Linked DNA regions of Homo sapiens. The protein of the gene in region 3 interacts with the protein of the main gene of each other region in a pairwise test. Each region holds a gene or a part of one and is shown on either strand. Other genes may lie near its edges. The genes, in order: NQO2, GFM2 and HSCB.

Region 1 (3,736 bases), on a different chromosome or scaffold from region 3:
TGGAAGGTTCAGAGTCCTCTCAAAAAAGGAAAAAAGTATGGGTTTTGACATCCTGCGTGGCTTGTCCTCTGAGGCCTAAATCTCCAGAAGATTCCTGGCCTCTCTTGAGAGGTCTTTCTCTGATGTGTTTGCGTGTCTGTCAGGAAGCAGCAGTGATGCCTAGATGTGGTACATTCGACCTCACCTATGCCTCTCCCCACCCCCTCTGGGTTCGTTTTGTCTTCCAGATTGCTGGACTCGCTGAAGAGAGACTACGCAGGAAAGCCCCAGCCACCCATCAAATCAGAGAGAAGGAATCCACCTTCTTACGCTATGGCAGGTAATGATTCACTATTGTGGAGTAAGACTTTTTTTTTTTTGAGATGGGATTTTGTTGTATTGCCCAGGCTGGTCTCAAACTCCTGAGCTCAAGTGACCCTCCCACATTGACCTTCCAGGTGGGAGTTAGACTCTTAATCAGAAATTGGATACATTGTTGTAAAAAATCCAAGCCACGTGGAAGTGTATAAACTATCTGGAATTATCTTGTTTTCTATGTTCTCACTTGTTTCATTGTTCCTTTCGACTCCCTCCAGAATTTAGGTTCCTCAAAAGTGGGGCCCTGCCTATCCTGTCTTTGCTGTGCCTCCAGGCCCTGAAATTCTCCCTGGGCTGTAGCAGGGGCTCAAGTGAATGAACCCCAGGAGGCATCTTGGGTAAAAATTCAGTACGATTCTATCTTTGCTTTTGCAACTGCTTATCATGCACATATACATGAACATGCAATCTCTCAACTTTTTAATTTCACCTAACGATATAACATGGAGAGCCTTTCGTGTTAGAACGCACAGGTTCACCTTACTCTATACATTATGGTGTAGATTCGGATTTTCGCCCTTGGCACCACTGACATTCTGGGCCAGATAATCCTATGTTTTGGGGGGTCATCCTGTGCACCCTGTTTAGCACCTAGCACCATCCCTGGCCTCTGCCCACCAGATGCCAGTAGCACCCCTCCCCCACCGGCTGTGACAAACCAAAATGTCTCCAGGCATTGAGAAACGTCCCCTAGCAGGCACAACACTGCCCCAGTTGAGAACCATTGGTGTAGGTATTTCATTTGCATCTATTCTCCTGTTAAGCCCCTAAGTATAGTTCCTTTATTGAAACAAGAGTCTGAGAAAGTAAAATTAAAATGTTAACCATGAATCTAACTTATGGAATTCAACCTTTGTAGCCAGCTCAATGCCCTGAAACCCATTGCTTCAAACTGATACGTGTATCTTTTCCTTAAAGTGTCATTATGAAAAATTTAAATCAAGAGTTTAACATCTTCTTAAAGGTGACCAGGGTAAATTTAATTAAGCAAATCACCAGGCTGCCTCCCAGACGAAGTCAGTATATAAGCCTGGAGACTCTTTCCAATGAGGAAAATACTGCTTCAGAAGCCCCTGGTGTGAACGATACTGCCAGTGCCAGGAGGGCCTGACTCTTCCTAGAGTCCTCTTTGTTATCAGCATCACCACTGAAAGATGGGCTCCATGTGGCCCTGCCTTCCCATGAGACCAGCGGGTCTGATTCCTCATGTTTTGTTTAAGTGTCAGATTTGATGGACTGGGGGAGATGGAAGCAGAACTGTGCCACACTGAAAGGTGCCTGTAGCTGATATCTGCAAATGTAGGGTTAGCATGGAAGACTAATTCCAGCAGTTCTTTATTTTGGTGTTAGGGAGCTGGTCTAAACCTTCTTACAGAGGATAACCAAATTAGGTTGGGCTTTTAAAAGATTTAGTGGTGGTATTTTTGAGGAGATATAATTTGACCCATTGTATTGTGATGTTGAGCTATGAATAACTGGATTTTTAAAATGCCCATTGCTTTAAAACTGCCACCTATTAGAAAGTTTGGTATTTCTGGGGCCAGGTGCTGTGGCTCATACCAGTAATCCCAGCACTCTGGGAGGCCAAGGTGGGCAGATCACCTGAGGTCGGGAGTTCGAGACCAGCTTGACCAACATGGAGAAACCCGGTCTTAACTAAAAATACAAAAAATTATCCGGGCGTGGTGGCGCATGCCTGTAATCCCAGCTACTCAGGAGGCTGAGGTAGGAGAATTGCTTGAACCCGGGAGGCAGAGGTTGCAGTGAGCTGGGATCGTTGCTCCAGCCTGGGCAACAAGAGCGAAACTCTGTTTCAAAAAAAAAAAAAAAGAAAAAGAAAAAAGGAAAGAAAAGAAAGTTTGGTGTTTCTGGCCAAGTGCGGTGGCTCATGCCTGTAATCCCAGCACTTTGGGAGGCCAAGGCGGGTGGATCACTTGAGGCCAGGAGTTCAAGACCAGCCTGGCCAACATGGCAAAATCCCATCTGTACTAAAAATACAAAAAATTAGCTGGGCGTAGTGGCACACATCTATCGGGGGAAATTCAGCCAGATATTGGGCGAAATTCACCCCCAATATTTCACGTAGGTTCTTTTCTATATTTCCTAAGTGTCGGCCGGTCTGAGAAATAAACGGACAGAGTACAAAAGAGAGAAATTTTAAAGCTGGGTGTCCAGGGGAGACATCACATGTCGGCAGGTTCCGTGATGCCCCCAAGCCGTAAAACCAGCAAGTTTTTATTAGTGATTTTCCAAAGGGGAGGGAGTGTACAAATAGAGTGTGGGTCACAGAGATCACATGCTTCACAAGGTAATAGAATATCACAAAGCAAATGGAGGCAGGGCGAGATCACAGGACCACGGGACGGGGCGAAATTAAAATTGCTAATGAAGTTTTGGGCACCATTGTCATTGAGAACATCTTATCAGGAGCCAGGGTTTGAGAGCAGACAACCGATCTGACCAAAATTTATTAGGCAGGAATTTCCTTGTCTTAATAAGCCTGGGAGCGCTACGGGAGACTGGGGCTTATTTCATCCCTACAGCTGGACCATAAAAGACAGCTGCCGCCCCGAAGCGGCCATTTCAGAGGCCCACCCTCAGGGACGCATTCTCTTTCTCAGGGATGTTCCTTGCTGAGAAAAAGAATTCAGCGATATTTCTCCCATTTGCTTTTGAAAGAAGAGAAATATGTCTCTGTTCCGCCTGGCTCACCGGCAGTGAGAGTTTAAGGTTATCTCTCTTGTTCCCTGAACATTGCTGTTATCCTGTTCTTTTTTCAAGGTGCCCAGATTTCATATTGTTCAAACACACATGCTCTGCAAACAATTTGTGCAGTTAACACAATCATCACAGGGTCCTGAGGCAATATACATCCTCCTCAGCTTATGAAGATGATGGGATTAAGAGATTAAAGTAAAGACAAGCATAGGAAATCACATGGGTATTGATTGGGGAAGTGATAACTGTCCATGAAATCTTCACAATTTACGTTCAGAGATTGCAGTAAAGACAGGCATAAGAAATTACAAAAGTATTAATTTGGGGAACTAATAAATGTCCACGAAATCTTCACAATTTATATTCTTCTGCCATGGCCTCAGCCAGTTGCTCCATTCGGGGTCCCTGACTTCCCACGAAACACACCTGTAGTCCCAGCTAGTCAGGAGACTGAGGCATGAGAATCACTTGAACCTGGGAGGCAGAGGTTGCAGTGAGCTGAGATCATGCCACTGCATTCCAGCCTGGGTGACAGAGTGAGACTGTCTAAAAAGAAGAGAGAGAAAGAGACAGAAAGAAAAGAAAATTTGATATTTCTTAGCTTCAATTACTATGATGCACCTGAACATTCAATTTTCATCTTAGTCTTCATTGAATTTAA
Region 2 (3,736 bases), on a different chromosome or scaffold from region 3:
ACACATTGGGTACAGTGTACACTACTTGGGTAATGGGTGCACCAAAATCTCAGAAACCACCCCTAAAGAACTTATGTAACCAACCACCTGTTCTCCAAAAGCCTATTGAAATAAAAAATAAAATAAAATAAGCCTTAGGGGAGAAAACTGTTAACCTAGTTGCTTTTTAGAATATAAAGTCTAAGATTATCTTTAATTATAAATATAATAAACCAGTTATGATAAAGACATAAAATTAAGGGCAATCACAGAGCAAATGTGTGTGTATATAAAAGAGAGAGAGAACATTCTATGTGGGTTCTATTTTTATATATTCAGTTTCTTGGCATCATAAGATTGTGTACATGTCTAGTTTACCTTACTATGAGAGCAAGATCTTGATATTCTCTTTTTTAACTGTAAATAAGTTATTGCCATGACTTTTGTAGGTGATTTTTCAGCTTAGTGACTATAATTACTGTAAAGCTTGATTTCCTTCTTGTTATAATAAACTGCATTAGTTTGAAATAAATAAATAAAAACACATGGAATATTATTCAGCCTTATAAAAGGAATCTTCACTTGAGCCCAGTTTGAGACCAGCCTGAGCAACACACTGAGGCCCTGTCTCTACCAAAAATACAAAAGTTAGCCAAGTGTGGTGGCACCTGCCTGTAGTCCCAGCTACTCAGGAAGCTGAGGCAGGAGGATCTCTTGTGCCCAAGAGTTCAAGGCTGCAGTGAGCTGTGACTGGGCCACTGCACTCCAGCCTGGGCAACAGAGCAAGAGCCTATGTCTCTAAAAAAAAAAAAAAAAAAAAAAAAAATTAAAAAATTAAAAAGGAATCTTGACACATGCTACAACATGGATGAACCTTGAGGACACTGTACTATGTGAAATAAACCAGTCATAGAAAGACAAATACTTACGATTCCATTTATATGAGGTACCTAGAGTAGTCAAAGTCATGAAGAAAAAGTAGAAGGATGGTTGCAAGGGACCGGGGAAAGGGGAAAATGGGAGTTGTTTAATGGGTATAGAATTTCAATTTTGAAAGATGAAAATGTTTTGAAGATTGGTTGCACAATAATGTGAATATACTTAACACTACCAAAATAGTTAACACTTAGAAATAGTTAAGATGGTAAATTTTATGTTTTTTTAACTACAATTTAAAAGACAAAAGATAACTTGGTTAAGGATTAACAAAATCCTCTTTGATGTGAGAATTTAACTTCTGGTTACTTTTTTTGGTTCTTTTCTTCTAGAAACCAGATAACAGAGGTATGTCAACTACATTCCTAGGCAATATAACTTATGGAAAAAACAACTTCTGATTGGTAAACTAAATCTGAATTGCGAAGAACTATAAATGAATTATATATATAAGTACCTTATGGAGATACCGAACTCTGGGCTTCCCTGTGTATGGCATGTACCTTAGGTGACACCTGGAAGCTATGCCTATGAAGTTATAACAAGAGACATTCATTCCTATGGGGCATGAATCTTCTAAGCTAGGGTGGCTCCTATGAATCTTGTCACCTTGCATCTAATCCATTACTCTGGAGCAGCCAAAGAAGATAGCTCCCAGATAGCTACGGGGACTGCTATAAGGACTCTACTAGAAAGAAACACCTAATGCTGGTCTGTTGGTAAGCTGTGGTTCCTGTCCTGTAGCATTCTGAGTAGACGAGTGTCCAGTGGGGCCTATGATAGTCTTACAAGTCTGAATATTTAGTTGAATCTAAGAAGACCCTTTGGTGGGTATTGCAACTATCTTATCTTTAAATTGTGGATTAGACATCAGTAGCTCTATGCCATATTCAAGGTGTGTAAGTTGACTTGTTAACCAAAATATTTTCCAATGATGCTTTTGCTAATGGGGGGGTGGGAAGAGGAGGAATCCATTCTAACCTCCCAGTGATCTTGTATATCCGGAATAGTACAATATTCTTTCTGTGGTGGTAGTTTTGCCTGCATCAATATGAGCCATAATTCCAATATTACGGATTCTGTTTAAAAGGAAAAAATAAGGTAAACTTTACTAAAATTGTAAAACCAAAGTATATATGCTATCCAAATTTCAAAGCTGGTATTTCTATAATTTATAAAACTGTGTAAAAACTAGAAAAATGGAAAACATTTAGAGTATATCCACATTACTCTGATAAGATAGCTAAGTAACAAAAGGGCTAACTACAACCTACAATTTTGAGACTATCTTATATTCATTCTAGAAAAGTGTGCTGTTGTTACATTAAAAATTTTTAGCATTAATTGAGAAAAAATAGCTAAGATACATTATCAACATCTACTTAAAATTGGCTAGGGCAGAAAGTCATAGAAATTACAGCATTCACTCTTGTCCATCAGAAAAAACCTGTAAATTTTCGTGACAGTCTATGGAAAAGCATGATATAATGATAGTACTTACTTAGCTATGGGAGGATTGATGATGGAATGAAGGGATTTGATATCATTTCCTATTAAGCCTAATGAAAAGAAAGTTAAAATTGAACTGTTACATTTATGAAATTTTCCTTTAATTTATAAATGAAAGACTTTAAAATAACTTTAAGCAAATACTGTAAGTCCAAATAAAGTAAAATTCAAGCTAAATAAATCTAAAATAAACTAAAATTTATTTCCTTGCAATGTATAAGGAAAGCTATGGATGACAATAAAACAAGGTAAAAGTTTTAAACATCAAGTTCTAGATCATATCCTCAGAAAAATACAGATTCACCCCAATCTCTGCCACCTACTTCACTTCCATTTACAAAATTGTAGAACTAGAATAAATGCTCATAATAATAATCTTAAGGCAATGATCCTGAATCAAAGAAAAAATTTTAAATGCACAGTCCTATAAACCTGCCTTTTCCAGGGTTTGAAGAGCTAAGAGTGATCCTCATGTCAGCTGATAATGAATTATTATACAATTTGGAACTTGCCTTCCTCAGCAATCCCAGGACACAATACCTTTAAAGACTGCCTGGGAGGTTTCACTGAATAGAAGCTATAACAATTTAATACTTTTGAAAGGCCAAGCAGTATTTCTTAAATAAAAAAGTCCATATGGCTTATTCTATGCTTAATATATAGTTTACTAATATTAAGAAGTAATTTCTAAAGAAACAAGGCAGTTACATTTGTAAATTTAATTAAAGCCTTCCTGTTATTTAAACCATTTCTCCCATGTTTCTATAATACAAAAAGGAGAATTTTATATTATTTTTGAAACTTCATGGTGGTTTGAAGATCAAAAGATAATCTATACTACTACAGTTAAATTCATATTAGCCAAATTCAGAGACCTAGATACACACCAATAACGTAGCCCATTAAATTAATCTGCCCTTGTAAGTCAACAGCCAATCAGTATTTTTATTCTATTATTCTCACATGACAAACACAGTAATGAGAACAGCAACAGAATTAAACTAGTTTCATAGAGTCTACCATACACTTGCTTGTTTCAAACACAGAAAGGACATTCAAAAGTAAGTCAACTCCTCCACCTTCCAGCTTCTGATGCCATGTATCTAACCTAAACAATCCCAAATACTTAGCCAAACTACTTATAACAATCCTCAAAATAAATTATTCTAGTAAATCTCTCTTGACAGAAAACACTTGCATAAAAAACAGAAATAAACTAGAAAAAGAAATTCACAAGAGCACTCTACAATTACACTCACATGTTAAACTTGCAAACTAGCTACTAAAGCCACCAACCTTTCCTTTGCTCAGT
Region 3 (2,986 bases):
ATTCTCACAAGGAGCATGCAACTTAGAACCCTCACATGTGCAGTTCACAATAGGGTTCATGTTCCTTTGAGAATCTAAGGCCATAGCGGATCTGACAGGAAACGGAGCTCAGGCGGTAATGCTTGCTTGCTCGCTCACTTGCCACTCACCTCCTGCTGTGGGGTCCAGTTCCTAACAGGTTGGGGACCCTTGATATAGTCCACAAAGTTGAAAATATTCACTACCAGGCCCTTTGCAGAGAAGTTTTTGGATTCCTCTTTGTAGGGCCTCAAATTGGCCCCATCTCCACCTCTTCAACCATTAGCCTACACTGGGGTCATGTTGTATCAAGTATCAGATGAAGAACTGACCACCCAAGCTCTGACTAGGCTGTGTTTCTTCCCACATGACAAACTTTGCCATCCACTAATGCTTGAGCCATAGGCTTAATTAAGATGATATAAACGGTAAAGGCTTATCTATTCCCAATTACCAGAAGCCAGAAAAGAAATATACAAGAATTTTATTTTTCATTTATTTATTTTTCAAGATTAAGTCTCACTCTGTTGCCCAAGCTGGAGTGCAGTTGCGTGATCTCTGCTCACTGCAACCTCCACCTCACGGGTTTAAGCGATTCTCCTGCCTCGGCCTACCAAGTAGCTGGGATTACAGGCACGCGCCACCATGCCCGGCTAATTTTTGTATTTTCAGCAGAGACGGGGTTTCACTATGTTGGCCAAGCTGGTCTTGAACTCCTGACCTTGTCATCCACCCACCTCAGCCTCCCAAAGTGCTGGGATTACAGGTGTGAGCCACTGTGCCCAGCAAGAACTTTATTTTTTAAACTTTAAACTATCCACAATTAAAGGGGAATCTTCTTTAACTTGATCTTTTCTTCTATATTTGAAAAGTATCTCATCTTTGTCAAAATTTCCTTGGCTTCTTCAAAGTCATCTGAAATAGACAGAGACACTGAAGTCAGGCTTCATTTCAAGCAAGAATAAAACCAACTCTGATGACTAGGGCAGCGATATATAAGTGGAGCCCTGGGGTCCGGAGGGCTCATCAATTCCTCAGTAAGACTGAGCAACGAAGAGGGAGAACATCTGGATTGTTAAGGAGACACAGGGATAAACCAAATGGGGCGAGAGTTGTGTAAGAGCATGTGTACAGGATTCACATAAATTAGAGAAGTTGATTCTCTTCAGGACAGTCCCAAGTAATAAATGGGTGGTGGAAGCTAGATGCAGGAGCTCATACCTGCTATCCCAGCATTTTGGGAGGCTGAGGCGGGAGGATGGCTTGAGCCCAGGAATTGAAGACCAGCCTGGGCAACAAAGCAAGACCCTGTCTTTACCAAAAATAAAAAATAAAAAATAAAAAATAAAATAAAAAATTAGCCAGGCATGGTGGCACATGCCTGTAGTCCTGGCCACTCGGGAGGCTGAGGTGGGAGGATCCCTTGAGCCCAGGAGTTTGAGGTTGCACTGAGCTATGACTGTGCCACTGTACTTCAACCTGGGCGACAGGGTGAGACCCTGTCTCTTTAAAAAAAAAAAAAAAAGGGTGGGTGGTTGTGTTTTAAAAATTTCTCCCTAACATGTGGTGGTATACTGAGGATATGAAAGCACTGAATGCTTCCTCTATGCCAGGTGCTGAGGCATAGAGCTGCCTTCAGGGGGCTTACAGTTCAGGTGCTGAGGCACAGAGGTACCCTCCGGGGGCTTATAGTTCCCAAGAAAGACACCTTTAGACCGGTGATTTTCCTTTTTTTTTTTTTTTGTGAGATGGAGCCTCACTCTGTTGCCCAGGCTGGAGTACAGTGGCGTGATCTCAGCTCACTGCAACCTCCACCTCCCGGGTTCAACCAATACTCATGCCTCAGTCTCCAGAGTAGCTGGTACTACAGGGTGTGCGCCACCATGCCTGGCCAATTTTTGCATTTTTAGTAGAGGCAGGGTTTCACCATGTTGGCCATGGCTGCTCTCAAACTCCTGATCTCAAGTGATCCGCCTGCCTTGGACTCCCAAAGTGCTGGGATTATAGGTGTGAGCCACCATGCCTGGCCAGACCAGTGATTTTCAACTGGGGATGATTTTGCCCCCATGGGGACATCTGGCAATGTCTGGAGATATTTTTGGTTGTCACAGCTGGGAGGTAGTACTGACATCTGGTGGGTACAGGCCAGGGATGCTGCTAATCATCTTATAGTACTCAGGACAGCTCCCCCAAACGAAGAATTATCTGGCTTACAATATCCGTAGTGCCAAGGTTGAGAAAACCTGACTTAGATAAGTAAAACACAATGTGAAGAGTGCTAAAATGAAGATATGTTATAACCATTTGCATCATTCCAGATGACTCCAAAAATAAAATATTAAGCAAAAAAGTCACAGAAGGATATGTATTATTTATATAAAGAAAAATATGTGAGACTAAATAATATACTATTATGTACATATATGGTTAAAACTATCAAGAAAAGCAAGGGAATGAGTAACACAAAATTCAGGAGTGGTTACTGTGGAAGGGAGATGTAATGGCAAAATGTCAACCAGGGACTTGGAAGGCCTTGGTCGTATTTCATTTCTCAATTTAATTTATTTAACATTTTATTTTTTTGAGATGGAGTCTTGCTCTGTCACCCAGGCCGGAGTGCAGTGGCGCAATCTTGGCTCACTGCAAACTCTGCCTCCCCGGTTCACGCCATTCTCCTGCCTCAGCCTCCTGAGTAGCTGGGACTACAGGTGCCCGCCACCTTGCCCGGCTAATTTTTTGTATTTTTAGTAGAGACGGGGTTTCACCGTGTTAGCCAGGATGGTCTCCATCTCCTGACCTCGTGATCCGCCCGCCTCGGCCTCCCAAAGTGCTGGGATTACAGGCGTGAGCCACCGCGCCCGGCCTATTTAACATCTTTTTTGTATTCAAAAAATTTTAGGGCCAGGCGCGGTGGCTCACGCCTGTAATCCCAGCACTTTGGGAGGCCGAGGTGGGCGGATCATGAGGT

Evidence for each region.
Region 1: the proteins of HSCB (region 3) and NQO2 interact in binary tests that used the Homo sapiens proteins (3 or more experiments, as listed by UniProt).
Region 2: the proteins of HSCB (region 3) and GFM2 interact in a two-hybrid assay, tested with the Homo sapiens proteins (one large-scale study listed by IntAct).

What each region holds. Positions count from the first base shown.
Region 1 is NC_000006.12:3,006,241-3,009,976, forward strand, and holds part of NQO2 (ribosyldihydronicotinamide dehydrogenase [quinone]), read left to right. Parts: intron 1-227; 5' UTR 228-312; coding exon 313-319; intron 320-3,736. UniProt on the Homo sapiens protein: The enzyme apparently serves as a quinone reductase in connection with conjugation reactions of hydroquinones involved in detoxification pathways as well as in biosynthetic processes such as the vitamin K-dependent gamma-carboxylation of glutamate residues in prothrombin synthesis.
Region 2 is NC_000005.10:74,756,953-74,760,688, forward strand, and holds part of GFM2 (ribosome-releasing factor 2, mitochondrial), read right to left. Parts: intron 2,475-3,736; coding exon 2,417-2,474; intron 1,995-2,416; coding exon 1,897-1,994; intron 1-1,896.
Region 3 is NC_000022.11:28,755,025-28,758,010, reverse strand, and holds the end of HSCB (iron-sulfur cluster co-chaperone protein HscB isoform 1 precursor), read right to left. Parts: intron 934-2,986; coding exon 842-933; 3' UTR 501-841; downstream 1-500.